Linked DNA regions of Homo sapiens. The protein of the gene in region 2 interacts with the protein of the main gene of each other region in a pairwise test. Each region holds a gene or a part of one and is shown on either strand. Other genes may lie near its edges.

Evidence for each region.
Region 1: the proteins of FSD2 (region 2) and ZSCAN26 interact in binary tests that used the Homo sapiens proteins (3 or more experiments, as listed by UniProt).

What each region holds. Positions count from the first base shown.
Region 1 is NC_000006.12:28,263,167-28,271,165, forward strand, and holds the start of ZSCAN26 (zinc finger and SCAN domain-containing protein 26), read left to right. Parts: upstream 1-3,976; 5' UTR 3,977-4,047; exon of another isoform or gene 4,048-4,287; intron 4,288-7,999. UniProt on the Homo sapiens protein: May be involved in transcriptional regulation.
Region 2 is NC_000015.10:82,753,904-82,762,157, reverse strand, and holds the end of FSD2 (fibronectin type III and SPRY domain-containing protein 2), read left to right. Parts: coding exon 1-56; intron 57-2,557; coding exon 2,558-2,810; 3' UTR 2,811-6,796; downstream 6,797-8,254.

The DNA.
Region 1 (7,999 bases), on a different chromosome or scaffold from region 2:
ATAGAATTTTACATTTTACTGGGGGAGACAGACTTATAAAAGCCAACAGGCAAAAATTACAAATTACAGTATGATGTGAAAAAAGTAACGGGCTAGAGACAGAATTGGGGGGAACTTTTTTGATATAGTGGTCAAGGAAAGACTAAGAATGCCAGATTTAAGCTGTGTGTGCTTTTAAATTTTAGTAGATATTGCAACACCACCTTCTATGTTTACACACTCACCAACATCATCACCAATATTGTATTTTCAAACCTTTTGATCTTTCCCAATCTAAGGTGAAAATGGCATTTTATTTGTATTTATTATTAAAAGTAAGATAGAGCATCCTTTCATAGATGTATTTACGAGTCTTTTGAAATTCTTTTGTGTGTATGTGAACTGCTCCTCTGATAACCTTTGTCCACTCTTCTATAGCGTTGTTGGTCTTTTTTCTTAACTGGTCATAAAAACTCTTTAATAAATTAGATCTTTATCAAATATCTTGCAAATATATCTCCGTGTTATTTACCTTTGACTTGTTTTTCTGAGAGACACTTGACTGTAATGCCCGTTAAAGCCTAAAAAGGTTTTCTAACAGTGGCCAAACAAATATCTTTATCTTTCTCGCTTGGAAGAAGATGCAGCTGAGAAACTGACTTCTAAGTAAGCCAAGGTAAGATCGGTGAGCTTCTTTCCCAGAAAGATAAAATACACACCATGCAACAAATAGTATGTCTAATGCCTACAGTGGAATACTCATGATAGCTTTTTTGCTGTAGTTATGCTTAACTTGCCATTTAATGTTGCTATTAGAGAGGGACTTGGCCAATAAATCTGCCTTAAAAGAGATTTCAAGAGTTGGAATATGACTGCAGATCACTGTTGTCTCAGGGGAGCTAATAAAAAGGGTTACAACTTTTCCTTTGAAGTAGTTTTGCCCAGAGTATGTAGCTATGGATTGTGAAATAGAAGAAAAACAGTATAACGAAAATTTTGTATTACGTTTACATTTCAAGAAACCATCAGAATCACTTTATTATTTCACTCTGCTCAAGCAGGAAGTTGAACAGATCAAATAACTTGTCTTAGCCACTAGAGTTACACTGAGTTTTATTCAGTGCTGAGAAACAGCCTAAGAAAGCAAACTAGTGAGGCTGTGCTGATTTACAATTGATACATTTTATGAAATAGCATTAATGTTCTCACAGACCATCATTATATGACTTTGTGGAATTATCAAAAGTAGTGTTTCACAAAATATAAAAATCTCCCACTGGCATAAGGGGTCTAATGTGTATTTCATGTTTGTTTGTTTTAAAGTTCTGTAGCACAAGGGAAGGTGTTTCTTAACCTTAGCCACCAGCAATTTAGGGAGTAAGAAATCATACATTTAGCAAAATTGCTCTTTTTATTCTTAGCCTAACGAATTCAGCTAGACTTTAATCTGAATTTATGGGGGATATGTCTAAGATTTCACCATCAAATATAAGGGAGGTTTTTGGTATATTTGAGATGTATTTATTTTTGCCTTATAAAGGAATCATCCATCTATTTATTTTTTATTAGGAGTTTCTGCTTTTAGTCAGAAATATATGTTGAGTTTTATGAAATGACATTGTAGCATTTGTGGAGATTATATGATTTTTCTTTATCAGCCTAATATGGGTGACTTAAAGTTATAGGTTCCTAATATTAAGCTATAAATTTGTTAGATTCATTTGTAGGCTTTGATTGTTTAGAACGATCACTGGACAAATAACTTATTTTAAAACTCAGAGTAATGAATGAGACCTTGCTGTATACGTATAAGAAGCAGAGAGAAGAGCAGGAAGCATCATTACCAGAAGATAAGAACTGTAAATCTTATGCTGGAGCATGGTGACATGACTCATAATGCGATAGCATCTCTACTGATAATATGGAAAAGAAAGTTCTTATCTTGAATATCGTATGAATGGACCTGGCAGAAACATGATCACTATAGTTTACAAAAATAAGGATAATCCTGGAAAATGAAAACCTCAAGTTTGAAAATTGATTTGTATTTTAGTATTTTGTCTCTCCTGGTGATAACAGTGTTTTGAGTTATTCTCACCTTATCTACCCCTACCCCTCCCAAAAGGTACAAACAGACTGTTTAAATGAAAAATGCACACCTTGAAAATTTAAAAAAACTCTTCTTTGTCTAGCTACTTTAAAGGTTTTGATTTTCATGGGATATCCAGTGCAATGGCAATAATCTCAGCCTTGACAATAAAAGTGACAGATTTAAGAAACTAGTCATAGTAGGGAATTTTAGAGGGGGAGTAAATAGGATATAGTATTTACTTTCTATTTAAATTAAATTTTCTTTATGTTTATCCCTTATATAATTTTTGAAAAGGTCCTTTTCTAGATATTAAAAAATAAGATATATGAGTTTTCCTCTCAAGAAAGAATATTGACTTCTAATTAGTAACACATATTGACTAGATTTGTTGGCCTTATGAAAAGTTTTAAAGTAAACATATTTAATTTTTACTTTAAAAATATGCTTTCAAAGATACATTCAGACACTTAAGAAGAAAAGATAACTGCTTGTGATAATGAAACTGGTTGTTTTTTTTCTGTTATGATAATTTCAATGCTTGAAACACTGAATAAATTACACGTCAGTACAATGTTTTGTATATTTAATGATATTTCAAAGCTTCTGTCAACTGATCAGTTAAACACAAAAGTTTGTTCAGATTTTTTAAAGGTTTTTTTTTCTTTCTTCCAACTTTTGTTTTAGGTTCAGTGGGTACATGTGCAGGTATGTTACATGAATAAAGTGCATACTGCTGGGGTTTGGTGTACAAATGATTTTGTCACCAAAGTGGTAGCATAGTACCTTATAGGTAACTTTTCAATCTTCACCTTCCTCTCACCCTCCACCCTCAAGAAGTCCTTGTGTCTGTTGTTCCCATTTGTGTTCATGTTTACTGAATGTTTAGCACCCACTTATAAGTAAGAACATGCAGTATTTGGTTTTCTGTTCCTGTGTTAATTGGCTTAGGATAAATGGCCTCCAGCTGCATCCATGTTGCTGCAAAGGACATGATCTCATTCTTTTAGCTGCATGATATTCCATGGTGTTATGTACCACATTTTCTTTTTCCAGTCCACCACTGATGGGCATCTAGGTTGATTCCATGTTTCTGCTATTGTGAAAAGTGCTGTGATGAACATACACATGCATGGTCTTTATGGTAGAACAGTATATTCCTCTGGGTATATACCCAATAATGGAATTGCTGGGTCAAATGAGAGCTCTGTTTTAAGTTCCTTAAGAAATTTCCAAATTGCTTTCCACAGTGGCAGAACTAATTTACATTCCCACTAGCAATGTATAAGCATTCAAAGAGTTTATCTTATTCAAAAACTATAAAAACCCAGTTTGTGATACTGTGGGCAAGAGAGACTATTTCTGTTCTCTGTTGTAGAATTTATTTTGATAAAGTGATATCTGTTGCTTTTATTCCCCCTGAAACTTACATTGATTGCAAAGTGTTGTTGATTTATTTTCTCTCACAGTAATAGCCCTAATTTCTTCTTACCTTAAACCTTTCAATCCAAACGTATGTCCATTGTTTAGTTTAATTTTCGAAATACTTTGACAATTATTTTTGCCATTGTGTTTGATGAATTTCTAAATTGCGAAAAATGGCGAAGTATGTGTGTTTTATTTATGTGAGCAAAGTGAAAATGTTGGCTGTTTGTGATAACACTCAACGGAGCTGGCCTGTTTTTACATGAATAAAATAAACATCCACTTTAAAATGAGAAAACAAAAACAAAAACAGAAACAAAAAAAAAACCCCAACAATCTTAGCTCACAACGAAATGACCCTCCCAGCCGTCCTCAGCAGGCAGCACCCATGTTAGTCTCCTTCTGCGATGCCTAAGCGGCAGCACCATCGAGCCAAGGTCCTCCAGCGTTCCTAGAGCGGAGAAGAAAGCGCTCCGAAGAGCTAGAGCTGACACTCGGCGATGAGCTAAGACGCTGTTTCAGAGCGTTTGGGTCCTCTGAGGCCCCTTGACCAGGTGAGCGGACCCTGGAGCTGGGCCCCGGGCTGGGGCGGAACTGCGGCCTAGGGGCCTAGGGAGCAGCTGCTTCCCGGCGGGTGCAGAGAATCTTCCCTCGACCGAGGGGGCGGGGTCCGTAGCGGAGGTGTCGGCCCTGGGGCCTATGAGAGTGATGAAGCTGTGGATCTGGTAAACAGAGTACAACCTTCTGCTGCATATTTTTCATCCATTCAGCGCAATTTTAAGTAGATATTAAAGGTAGGCGCCACCGAGAAGGTAATATTTGAGCAGAAATCTGAAGGAGGTGGGTGGAAAGACCTAAGTGGCTTTTGCGGTCAGGAACTTTCTAGGTAGAGGGAATAGCAAGTGCAAAGGTCTTAAAGCAGGAGCTTGCTTGGCATATTTGAGGAATAACGGGGAGACCAGAGCGGTTGGAGCAGTGAACAAAGGCGACCTTTGTAGGGAATGATGTCAGAGAGATTGGGGTATGGAGAGGAAGAGTGTAGAGGAAATGAGAACTGTATCGTGTAAGGAATTTTGTCTTTTTTTGGTGTGTGTTTTTGGAGGATTTTGAGCAGAAGAAAACATGATCTGACTTATGTTTTAAAGCTTCTTTACTTGGAGACTCATGATGATAATAGATTGTAAGTGGGCAAGAATGGAATCAAGAAAACTTAAAAGTTAAGAGTAATTTTTTAAAATTCCAAGTAATTCAGGTGGGAGATAAGGATATCTTGAGCCAGTGATCAGATTATGATCTGCTTTGAAAATAGAGACAATAATATTTGCTACTGGGTCAGATGTAGGGTGTGACAGTAAGAAGGCAAATATAAATCCAAGGTTTTGGGCCTGTGGGTGCAAGAGATACTGGAGAAAAGATCTGAGGTTTAGCTTTGGTACCTCGTGTAAGTTCTTCAACTCTCCCCGTCTCAATTTCCTTCTCTGCACGAAGAAATTAGGAATAGTGTCTTCTTTATAGGGTTGTGTGAGGGTTAAATAATTAATATATGTGAAACATGTAGTATAGTTGTCCTGGCTCATTGTTTTATTATGCTGAGACATGAAGTGTGAGTGGGCATTAACAAGAAGAAAATTGGAGGGTTGGAGGGTGGTCCAAGCAGAAGGAATAAGCTGTGGAAGGGCCAAGGAGCAAGAAGGAGTATTGCAAATTTGATGAAATAAAGTACTTTATTAGATCAAAAAACAATGTAAACCATATTAAATGTTTTGAACTTGATCCTAAGGGTAATAATCAGCCATTATATGTAACAGGCATAGCAGGGACATAATAATATTTCATATCCTCCTTAGAATGATCACTGTTTGCGTGTGGAAAATAGATTGGTGTCTCAGACCAGTCTGTTTGTCACAGTGGTCTAGGTAGGAGAAGACAATGGCAAAGGGGATGAGAAGTGGATTGATTTGAGAGATATTTAAGCAATAGAATCAATAGAACTTGATTGATCAGATACATGAGATATGAAAGGAGGAAGGAATGGTCAGTTTTCTGGCTCAAATAGCTGGGTAGATGGAGCTCCTCCCAAAACAGTTTATCAAATTATTTATTATATATTGTGTTTGATATATTTAATCACATTATAGAAATGAACTCACCACTAATTCAGCCTCATACCCAGCCAGGCACGGTGGCTCATGCCTGTAATCCCAGCACTTCGGGAGGCTGAGGACGGTGGATCACTTGAGGTCAGGAATTCGAGACCAGCTTGGCCAACATGGTGAAACACTGTCTCTGCTAAAATTACAAAAATTAGCTGGGTGTCATGGCAGGCATTTGTAATCCCAGCTATTCGGGAGGCTGAGGGAGGAGAATCACTTGAACCCGGGAGGCGGAGGTTGCAGTAAGCCAAGATTGCGCTGCTGTACTCCAGCCTGGGCAACAGAGGCAGACTCCATTTCAAAGAAAAAAAAAAAACACATCATACCCTATATATACATATCAACATCATACCACATGTTTATTTATATACCAATACTGATATAGATACCAGTATATATATATGTATGTGGCATAGATATATACTGATATGGGTATAGATATCTCTATAGATATAATAATATGAATACAGGTATATATAAAAAATACGAATACAGGTATATATACCTAAACAATAATACGAATTATGTATATATATACATATGCCTGTATTTGTGTCATTATTTGTATAACTAGGGTATCTATATCGGTAAAGATAGGTAGAGATCTAGAAAGAGATTTACTATAGGGAATTAGCATAGGTCATTATGGAGGCTGGCAAGTCTCAGTATCTTCAGAGTGAGTTTTCAGGCTGGAGACCCAGGAGAGCAAATGGTTTAGTTCCAGCTCAAGCCCAAAGGCCTGAGAACCAGGAGAGCTGATGGTGTAGTTCCTGTCTGAAGGCCATAGGCTTGAGATTCAGTAAGAGCTGTTTTAGTTCCAAGTCTGATGGCAAGAAAAAAGCTGATGATTCAGTTTGAAGCATTTTAGACAGGAAGAATTCTCTTACTCAGGGATGAGTCAGCCTTTTTGTTCTAGTCAGACTTTTAACTGCTTGGATGAGGCCCACCAACATTATGGAGGGCAGTCTGTTTTAGTCAACAGTCTACCAATTTAAATGTTAATCTCATTCCAAAAACACCCTCACAGAAACATCCAGAATAATGTTTGACCAAATATCTGAGCACCCTGTGGCCAGTTAAGTTGACACATAAAATTAACCATTACAATACCAATCTTTTATTTTCTGGCTAATAATCATCACTTTTTTTGAGACAGAGTCTCACTCTGTCGCCCAGGCTGGAGTGCAGTGGTGTGATCTCAGCTCACTGCAACCTCCACCTCCTGGGTTCAAGTGATTCTCCTGCCTTAGCCTCCCGAGTAGCTAGGACTACAGGCGTGTGCCACCACACCCGGCTCATTTTTTGTATTTTTAGTAGACACGGGGTTTCACTGATAATCATCACTTTCTTGGACTTTTTTACTTATATTAAGAATACTAGGAATTGGCTTTTTAAAGTTTAAGTTCATTTTGACTAAGAAAAATAATTATCAGCTGGGAAATGTTAACTATATACACATTCAGGAATATATAACAGCAAACTGTTTGGAGGCTAAGCCACTGATTAAGTGAGCCTTCTCCCGTTCTCCCACTTACCGCATGCACATTGATTCAAAGGCATGTGTCAGCAGCTGACAGATGGTGTTTCACTGATCTATAGGGATACTCAAGCATAGTCAAAATCAAGAATGCTAAATCCCCACATACCAAGGGCCTGCCCCAAAGGATGGTAGGGAATTGTCTGAGTTCATTTTTGACATGTTGGATTTGAGAGGCTTCTGTAGGGTATCCTGGTCCCAAATAGGCAGAAGGAAATTCAGGTCTGACACTTGAGATATCTGACCTGAAGAATAAGGAAATCATCAGCATAAGGACAGTAATTGAAGTCACAAAAATACTTATACTCTACATTAGCCCTTTCTAGTTTCTGCCCTATCTTTCTTGTTCCATTCAATGTATTACTTTTTTGAAATTTGTCATTTATGCTCACTCTCCATTTTCTCATTTCCTATGGCAGGCTAGCTATTCTCACTACCAAAATTACCTTCACAGAGGTCACTAATGACATCTTTGTTTTTGAATCAAGTGTCTATGCCAGGTCTTAGATTAATTCACCATCTTATAGCATTTCACACTCTTGAACACTGTGCTCATATCATTTCCCTTATAAATCAGTGAATTCCTTCTGTTCTTTAGAATTATCTCATTTACCTCAAAACTTCTGTGAATTAGGTATTATCTTCATTTTACAAATGAGTAAACTAAGTCCAAAAGGATAAGTTACTTGCCCCAGGTCACAACATGTAAGTGACAGGGCTGGATTGGAACCCAGGCCTGTCTAAGGCCCAGGGTCTTTCCACCATTCCACATTTACAGAAATAGACCTCCTTGACCTTCTGGATACTATTGTCTTT
Region 2 (8,254 bases):
GATCTGGGAGCAAATTGCCTCTCCTGGTGCATGAGGCACACATTTGCATCATCAAGGTAAAGTAAAATCTGGATACTCACAATTAAAATTTGCTTTTGAAAGATTACAGCAAGACCTTTTCACTAGCAATAATTAAGACACACGTTATATTTTACAAATATTTTAAGATATTTCAGGAGTTGCTGCCAGCCACTTTCCCTAAAGTCCAAGTAAGAGGAGAAAGAGCAGCTTTTCTTCAACTAAAAATAGCTAAAATTTATGGAGAATTATGTGCCAAGTACTCTTACATGCATTATCTCATTTACTTCTCACAATTGTGTTATCTCATTTGAAAAATCAGAATGCTGGGTGCAGTGGTGTGCACCTGTAGTCCCAGCTACTCAGGAGAGTGAGGTAGGAGTATTGTTTGAGCCCTGGACTTCAAAGCCAGCTTGGGCAACATAGCAAGACCCCGTCTCTAAAAAAAAAAAAATAATAAAATAAAAAAATAAAATAAAATAAAAGAATAAAAATAAGAAGACCACACCTCACAGCAATTAGATAATCCAAACGACATGGATTTGGAACTTGGATTCAAACTCAAGCAGTCTGGTTCCAAAGATTTCATTCCTAACCACTTAAGTGATAGATTTTTCATTTCTGTTCACCTTTAGTATTAAGCCAATACAGTTTGCTTTGAAGCCCCAGTTCCATCTTTTTAAGTAAATGTGGGCAAGAGGCTTAGTAGTTATGGCTAATTCTGGTTTGCTCCTGCTGCTGGGCACTCTGTCTTTACACATGGAGTAGTTCCATATAGTGGGAAAAAAAGTCTCACGAAGCCCAGGCCAATGAATACACTTTCAGACTTAGAAGGCCATGGTTACAACCTTCCTTCACCTCAAAAACTGAAAAACAAGACCCCACACTGCTTTCCTATCACACCTTGTAAAATGGGGCCTCTGACCCTCCTTGATTTGATGAATCCTATTAATGTTCATCCAATGCTCTCTGCCCATGATCCTCTATCATGGTTATTTACACATTATGTGTCATGCCCAAGCATAAGTGGGAAAACCAACTTCCCCTCCGATAACAGATGAAGACTCTAATGAAATCTACTAAACCTCACACCCAGTTTGGGGAATCCAAGAATTACTATACACTGAGGCAGATACTTTATTTGGGGATTCTGCCTGAAGTAAGACTAAAGAGCAAAGTCTCTTCTTTAGAAAGGCAAGAACAAGGGGCAGAGTAAAACTAAGGGAGCATAAAGAAAGCCTAGAAGTCCACGTGTAGAGGGAAGAATAAAGGGGGTAAGAAGACACAATAGAAGAGGGGTGGAAACAGAAGAATGACAAAAGAAGGGCAAAAGCTACAGTCCAAGTGCTAGAGCCAAGCCAGTTTCTTACAGATGTAGGGTGTGTGTGTGTGTGTGTGTGCGTGCACGCACACACGTGCACACACGTTACAAGTGGAGAATGAAGGTAAGGTATCCTAGGATAAGGTCTCCTAGCAGACTTGCATTTTTGGCTCATAGTATTAGACTTTATTGGTGGTAGCATAGAAAGTAGAAGAAACGACTCATAGCTTCTGGCAGCTGCTTAGTTAAATTAAGGTGAAATGGGCTAGAGACAGGCAGGCTTCCTCTGACACGTTTAGATCATATTCCAAGTGTTTATCCCAGTAGCCTAGACTAGCCTGTTGACACAAAGAGCTCTTCAAATATCTGTAGGTAGCAGGGTTAGGAAATTCCTGTGACAGGTTTTCATTTCTGCCATTTTTCAAAGTACACAGGATGTAGAGCATGGATAGTGATATAGTATTGATTGGTAACAGGCCCACTGGCTCCCCACTCAATATGAAAGTTTAAGAACTGGAGTAACTGTGCATAGAAGAGCTTATACCAAGAAGCCCATTTTATCACATGGAAAATCACAAGGTTCCCTGTTTCAAATGTCTAATCCAAATTTTAAAAACATGTTCTATTCCTATGCTAGTTTAGATGAAAGAGAGTTCAGGATGCTATAGGTAAATTTCTTAGGTTAAGAGGTTGCTAGAGAAAAAATGATGTTTGAAAAATGTTTCGGCCAGAAGCAGTGGCTCACACTTGTAATCCCAGCACTTTGGGAGGCCAAGGCAAGTGGACTGCCTGAGCTCAGGAGTTCGAGACCAGCCTGGGCAACACAGTGAAACCCTGTCTCTACTAAAAATACAAAAATTAGCCGGGCTTGGTGGTGCACGCCTGTAATCCCAGCTACTCAGGAGGCTAAGGTGGGAGAATTGCTTGAACCCAGGAGGCTGAGGTTGCAGTGAGCCGAGATTGCACCACTGCACTCCAGCCTGGGTGACAGAGCAAGACTCCATCTAAAAAAAAAAAAGAAAATGTTTCTTAGGACAAATTTTAGAAAAGAGATAGTTTAGAGAGTATAGTTTTAGAAATGGCTTGTCACCTTGGTAGTCATTTAATACTAGAAAATAGCAAAATCATAGGACTATGAATAAAATTAGTATGAAATGTTCTATAAATAGTCAATCTATAGAATTACTGAAACTTTATTATGTCAAATTTAATTTTCAGGCATAAGTATGAATTTCTGCACAACAGAACAACTCCAGATATAAGAATAACAGTTCCACCAAAGAAGATTGGCATTCTATTAGACTATGAACATTCAAAGTTGTCATTTTTCAATGTGGACCTTTCTCAGCATCTATATACATTTAGTTGTCAGCTTCACGAATTTGTGCATCCCTGTTTTTCTTTGGAAAAGCCTGGGTGTCTAAAGGTACATAATGGCATTTCAATGCCAAAACATGTCACTTTCTATTAGAACATTCTGATGTCCAGTTTCCTGTCTTCCATGCCTACCCCTCTCGCAGCTGCTCACGCCTTAGCTGGCTGAACCTGGCACTTAAGCACCATGTGCCCAGCACAATTTATGGCTCATGCTATTATCTGACTGGTGTGCTAGCGCTCATTTCACCCAACCTGGATTCTAGTCCTGTGTGCTGCTACCTGTGTGCTGCTAGGATAGTCATTACCAGGCCCAGCTGTAAAATAAAGGCTCAGACTAAACGAACTCAAAAGTCTTTGAAGCTGTCAAACTATATTCGTGTATATGCAAAATATCTTGAGTTTCCAAGACCTAGAGAGCTTGGGAGAGGACGAGGGTAGTCTTAATGGCTCCAGCAGCACCAGTACACCCATGCATTTCATGAGTCAGCCAAGAATACACTTGAGAAGGCGAGAGGCTGTCTGTAGAGAACCAGGGAAGCTGTGTGCCCTTCTCAATGTCTTCTACCCTCGTTTTCCCAATAGTGAGCAGCACTGTGGTGAGGTCCCTTCCACTGTGTACTCTGCATACAGGGTATTCCCTGTTCCACTCCTACACAGTATGCACCACTCTCTAATTTTGAAATTACCTCTATAATGCCTAATTCCATGAAGGGAGGGACAGTGCCTGTTTTGTTCATTGCTAGATCACCAAGGGCTAACACATAACAGCTGTCACCAAGTATTTGTTGAATAAATTAGTATCTTCTTCAGCCACTGCTCTTTGGCCTCTTACTGCTCTCCATGTGAAGGATGGCAGGGCTCTTTCAAAACTACAGCAAAGGACCTATGGCCAAGAAATGGGAAAAAACCTAGAATGGAGGCAGCGTGAAAGAACAGAAGGGCATCTGTGGCATATTAGCAAATGCACAACAATTTTTTAAAAGAAATTAACAGCCCACCAAAGGGCAAAGCTGAGCACGGGAAGGAAGACTGATCTCTAGCTAGGCAGCTTTCAGGCATCCTGCCTCACTGCCCCCAGGCCATTCTGTGAGCTCAATGCCCAACTCCATCAGCTACATTCCTGGTTCTCCTGTTCAAGTTTCCAGTTGCCACTTAAGCTCTGCACACACAGCATTTTCAAAGCTTGTGAGTGAAGCTGCAGAATAATTCCATTTGTGAAGCAATTACAATTCAGTATCATGTCCCACAGATGCCTCTAAACCCAGATATGCCCTAATCTCATCATTTAAGGTTTTGTGTTTAAAAAAAAAAAGTCCACTTTTCTTTTTTCTGGCGAAACCCCGTCTCTACTAAAAATACAAAAAATTAGCCGGGCATGGTGGTGGGCGCCTGTAATCCCAGCTACTCAGGAGGCTGAGGCAGGAGAATTGCTTGAACCCGGGGGCAGAGGCTGCAGTGAGCCGAGATTGTGCCACTGCACTCCAGCCTTGGCAACAAGAGCGCAACTCTGTCTCAAAAACAAACAAACAAACAAACAAAAAACCTCTGATGTTTTCCAGCACCTGCAAAGTCTGACAAACTGAAAGACTCTCATCTCCTACTAAACTCTGCCTACTCGTATAAATGGCAGCTCAGATTCCTGAATTAACAATTCACACTGACAATTTAATAACTCGTTATACACACACACACCTATCCTGCCAAGCTGGACTGTCTACTCTGAAACAAGGGACAGCAGATGTAAGCACAGAAATAGTTCCAGTTATAAACAATTAAAAGATACATATCATGTATATTTAAAAATGTTCTCGGCCGGGCGCGGTGGCTCACGCCTGTAATCCCAGCACTTTGGGGGGCCAAGGTGGATGGATCACAAGGTCAGGAGATCGAGACCATCCTGGCTAATACGGTGAAACCCCGTCTCTACTAAAAATACAAAAAAATTAGCCGGGACTGGTGGCGGGCGCCTGTAGTCCCAGCTACTCGGGAGGCTGAGGCAGGAGAATGGCGTGAACCCGGGAGGTGGAGCTTGCAGTGAGCCGAGATGGCTCACAGATCAAGACTCCATCTCAAAAAAAAAAAAAAAAAAAGTTCTCAGCTACTGAAATAGAAACTACCAAGTAAGAAACAGGATATCACAGAGAAGGCAAGTTTGAATTCAGGGTTCTAATAGGCTTTATGGAATACTACACGTTAGTATGAACACGGATAAATGGATTAAAAACTCAACACGTATAAAGTTTTAATTAAATTTTTATTTGACCAAGAAAAAACTGTCTAGAATTGCCTGACATTTAAAATCCACTTAAAGCAGATTAGCAACTTCAAGCATCACAATTATTCAGCATAAAGAGCCTTTGTTGAAACATCTTTCTCATTTATTTAGAAGAAAACATCTAGAACAGAACCAAGCAAAACTTTTGTATTTTTGTAAAAAATCTCAATTCCTGAAACTACTATAAACAATCTACTGAAACTGTATTCAGCAAGGGACAGATTTACCTCAAGGCCATGTTCACCTGCAACCTGCTGATAAGTCTGTTAAAAAACAAAGCAAAAAAAAGAGTTTTTAAAAATTAGACCACTGTAGCCACAATCCCTAACACTGGACAGTTAAAACAAAAGTTATCAAAATCTGTTCTTTTCTTAGCTTTACCTGTATCACTTTATAACTCCTGAGAAAGTCATTCACATAAGCTGTGGCCTCCCCACCTTAACAAAGGGGAAAAAGAATATGTAAAACCACCACAGAATCTTGGCGTAAACTAACATGGGTTTAGTAATACAGAGTACAGTATTCAGGATTTAAGGCACCCTTACAAGTCAGAATTGGAAAGTTGGTTTGAGACTTGCAATCTAAAATGACACTGATTTCTGATAAAATTAAATGACTTTTATTTAGAAAAGTGTGTTTAATAAATTACTTCCTGCTGGTTCAAATGACACACAATCACTTTGTATACATCCAATAAGATATTTCTGAAGTGTATACTTGGTCAAAAGTAAAAAGCAGAGCAAATGCATGGACAGTGGGGCCTTCTTCTTAATACTTCTCATCCTCCAAAATCTGTTAAAATCATCATCTTCCACAACTCACACACTGGAAGCTGTCCACAGCACAATTCACTGTGATGTGGCATTCTGTAAATAAGACTACATTGGTCTTGATGCAAGGCGGTTCAGCTACCAGACTGCACTATAAGAAAAGTCCTCTCCTCAACTTACCAAGAAAACTTCGCCAATTTCTAGTCACCTTCCTATCAATTAGTAGAGCAAGATTCTCACATGTTCACTATGTCTTTCTCCAGTTTTCTCATCTATAAGTGTACTACTCCTATTTTCTATAGGAAGACAATGGAAAGCGTGTAATTGCTGTTGGTAGATAAGTAGGTCTTGAATTTATTTTGCAAACAAGACCTGTTCTATCTACCTTTTCATTTAGGAGGCTAAAAGCAGAGTCAGCTTGATTTCAAGGACTCTATTTTCTTAGTCTCCAGAAGAACATAACCAAATCCAGCTTTTAAAACACTGTCCTTTAACAAGTCAAGATACTCAAATAAAGATCATGTATAACTTCAAGCTATAGGAGATTAACTCTGTACATATGCTTGTTTCACTGTAACCAATGGTTAATTAATCTAAATGCAAGAGAAAAGTTATTTGGAAAGAAGACCCCAGCTGGTCAGCATCTTTTCTGTCATCAGGAAGTCTCCTGGAAGGAGTATGACTATGACCTGGGCACAACAACTGCCCCTAAGTTAGTACTTATTTTAGAGTTGCTACTGAACAGGTGGTGGTTCTTGTCAAGTATATCATGTCTGACTACTTTACTGCTTGTTTTCTGCTATCACCAGTTCCAGAAAAAAAAAAAAAAAAAATTAAGCCCAACTCACTAATTGATTGCTTTTTCATTTTCCCAGACTGTGACAGAATCATGGTTTTTAGCTCTATTTTCACCTTACTCAAATCCTGGAGGAATTAAACTATCATTTATTTGAAATGTTACAAATTAGCCTGCAGTTGATTCAAACAACATGTAGTCACTCAGACATAGCAAATAAAAATGTTTTGGTATATGAACTTGGATTCTAATCTTGCTGTCTCTACTACTCTCATTCCTAAGTATAAATGTTAGGTCTCTTGCTTGAAAGGAATTTAAGAGATGCCCTTAAATTCAAACAGACTGGCTCGCAGAAAGGAATATAATCCATTCACTGGGAAAGTACACAGCCAACAAAACTGAGATTTCCCAACTATGCACTGTAACAATGCAGAAACACAGTTTTAGAGATGGCTTTACTGGGTATATACATCGCTCTTGGTAGACCCATCTATTATTCTGCCACCCAGAAAGATTCTTACCCTCCTACTTCCTTCCAAACATTCATTTAATTTAAAGGTGACAGGGACAGGGAGAGGGAAGGAAAAAACAAGAAGCACTATCCAAAAGTAAGAACAGTACTCTGGAGAAAGGTAAAAGATACTCAACACTGTTTTTTGTACCATTTACGATTTATAAATCAGCCACAGAGTCCTAGGCACCCAGAATGGACCTCCCCTTCCTTGTCTACCTAATGCCTGTATAGCTCCAAAATCACCTCTTGGAAACACTGCCTTATTCCTCCCCCTCCCAGGAGAGGTTAAGTGCCACACTCACCTCTTTTAGATTACTTCAGTGGCTATACTGCAATCATTGACTTGTGTCTGCTCCACTTGACTATAAGCAAATTGAAGGCAGGGTTTGTGCCTTCATAATCTCTGAATGATCTGAAGATGGAAATAACTGCTTTGTGCTTTCAGGGAGCTCATATACCTGCAAAGAGAAAAGAGACATCAAATTATCTTCCAAAATCAAAGGAAAAGCCTCTTTATTAGAAAGCAAAGCAGCTTTCAAATTTGTGTGTGCTTGGGGAGTAGAAGGAAACATTAAAAATATGAACCTGCTGGGCATGGTGGCTCACACCTGTAATCCCAACATTTTGGGAGGCCAAGACAGGCAGATCACCTGAGGTCAGGAGTTCGAGACCAGCCTAGCCAACATGATGAAACCCCGTCTCTACTAAAAATACAAAAATTAGCCGGGCATGGTGGTGGGCGCATGTAATCCCAGCTACTCAGGAGGCTGAGGCAGGAGAATTGCTTGAACCAGGGAGGCGGAGATTGTAGTGAGCCAAGATCACGCCATAGCACTCCAGCCTGGGCAACAAGAGTGAAAACTCCGTCTCAAAAAAAACAAACAACCCCAAAATATCAACCTTTCTTCTGTCCCAATACACCTTAAAGATCTGATACAGAGTCCCATTACTAATAGTGCTCCATGGTGACTTCTAATCTGGGAAGAGTGGGAGGGGACACAGAACAATCTGGGGATGGGAAAGATGTATGTGGTTTAGAATGCTCTTCCCAACACTGCAAGAGACCTTTGACATGTTTAATATTTATTATAGTTAGACTATACTTAAGAGAGCCCAAAGATCTTCAAAATGTATATTTTAAATGTTCTGAATCATAAATTTGGTTCATATGCCCTGGAGGCTG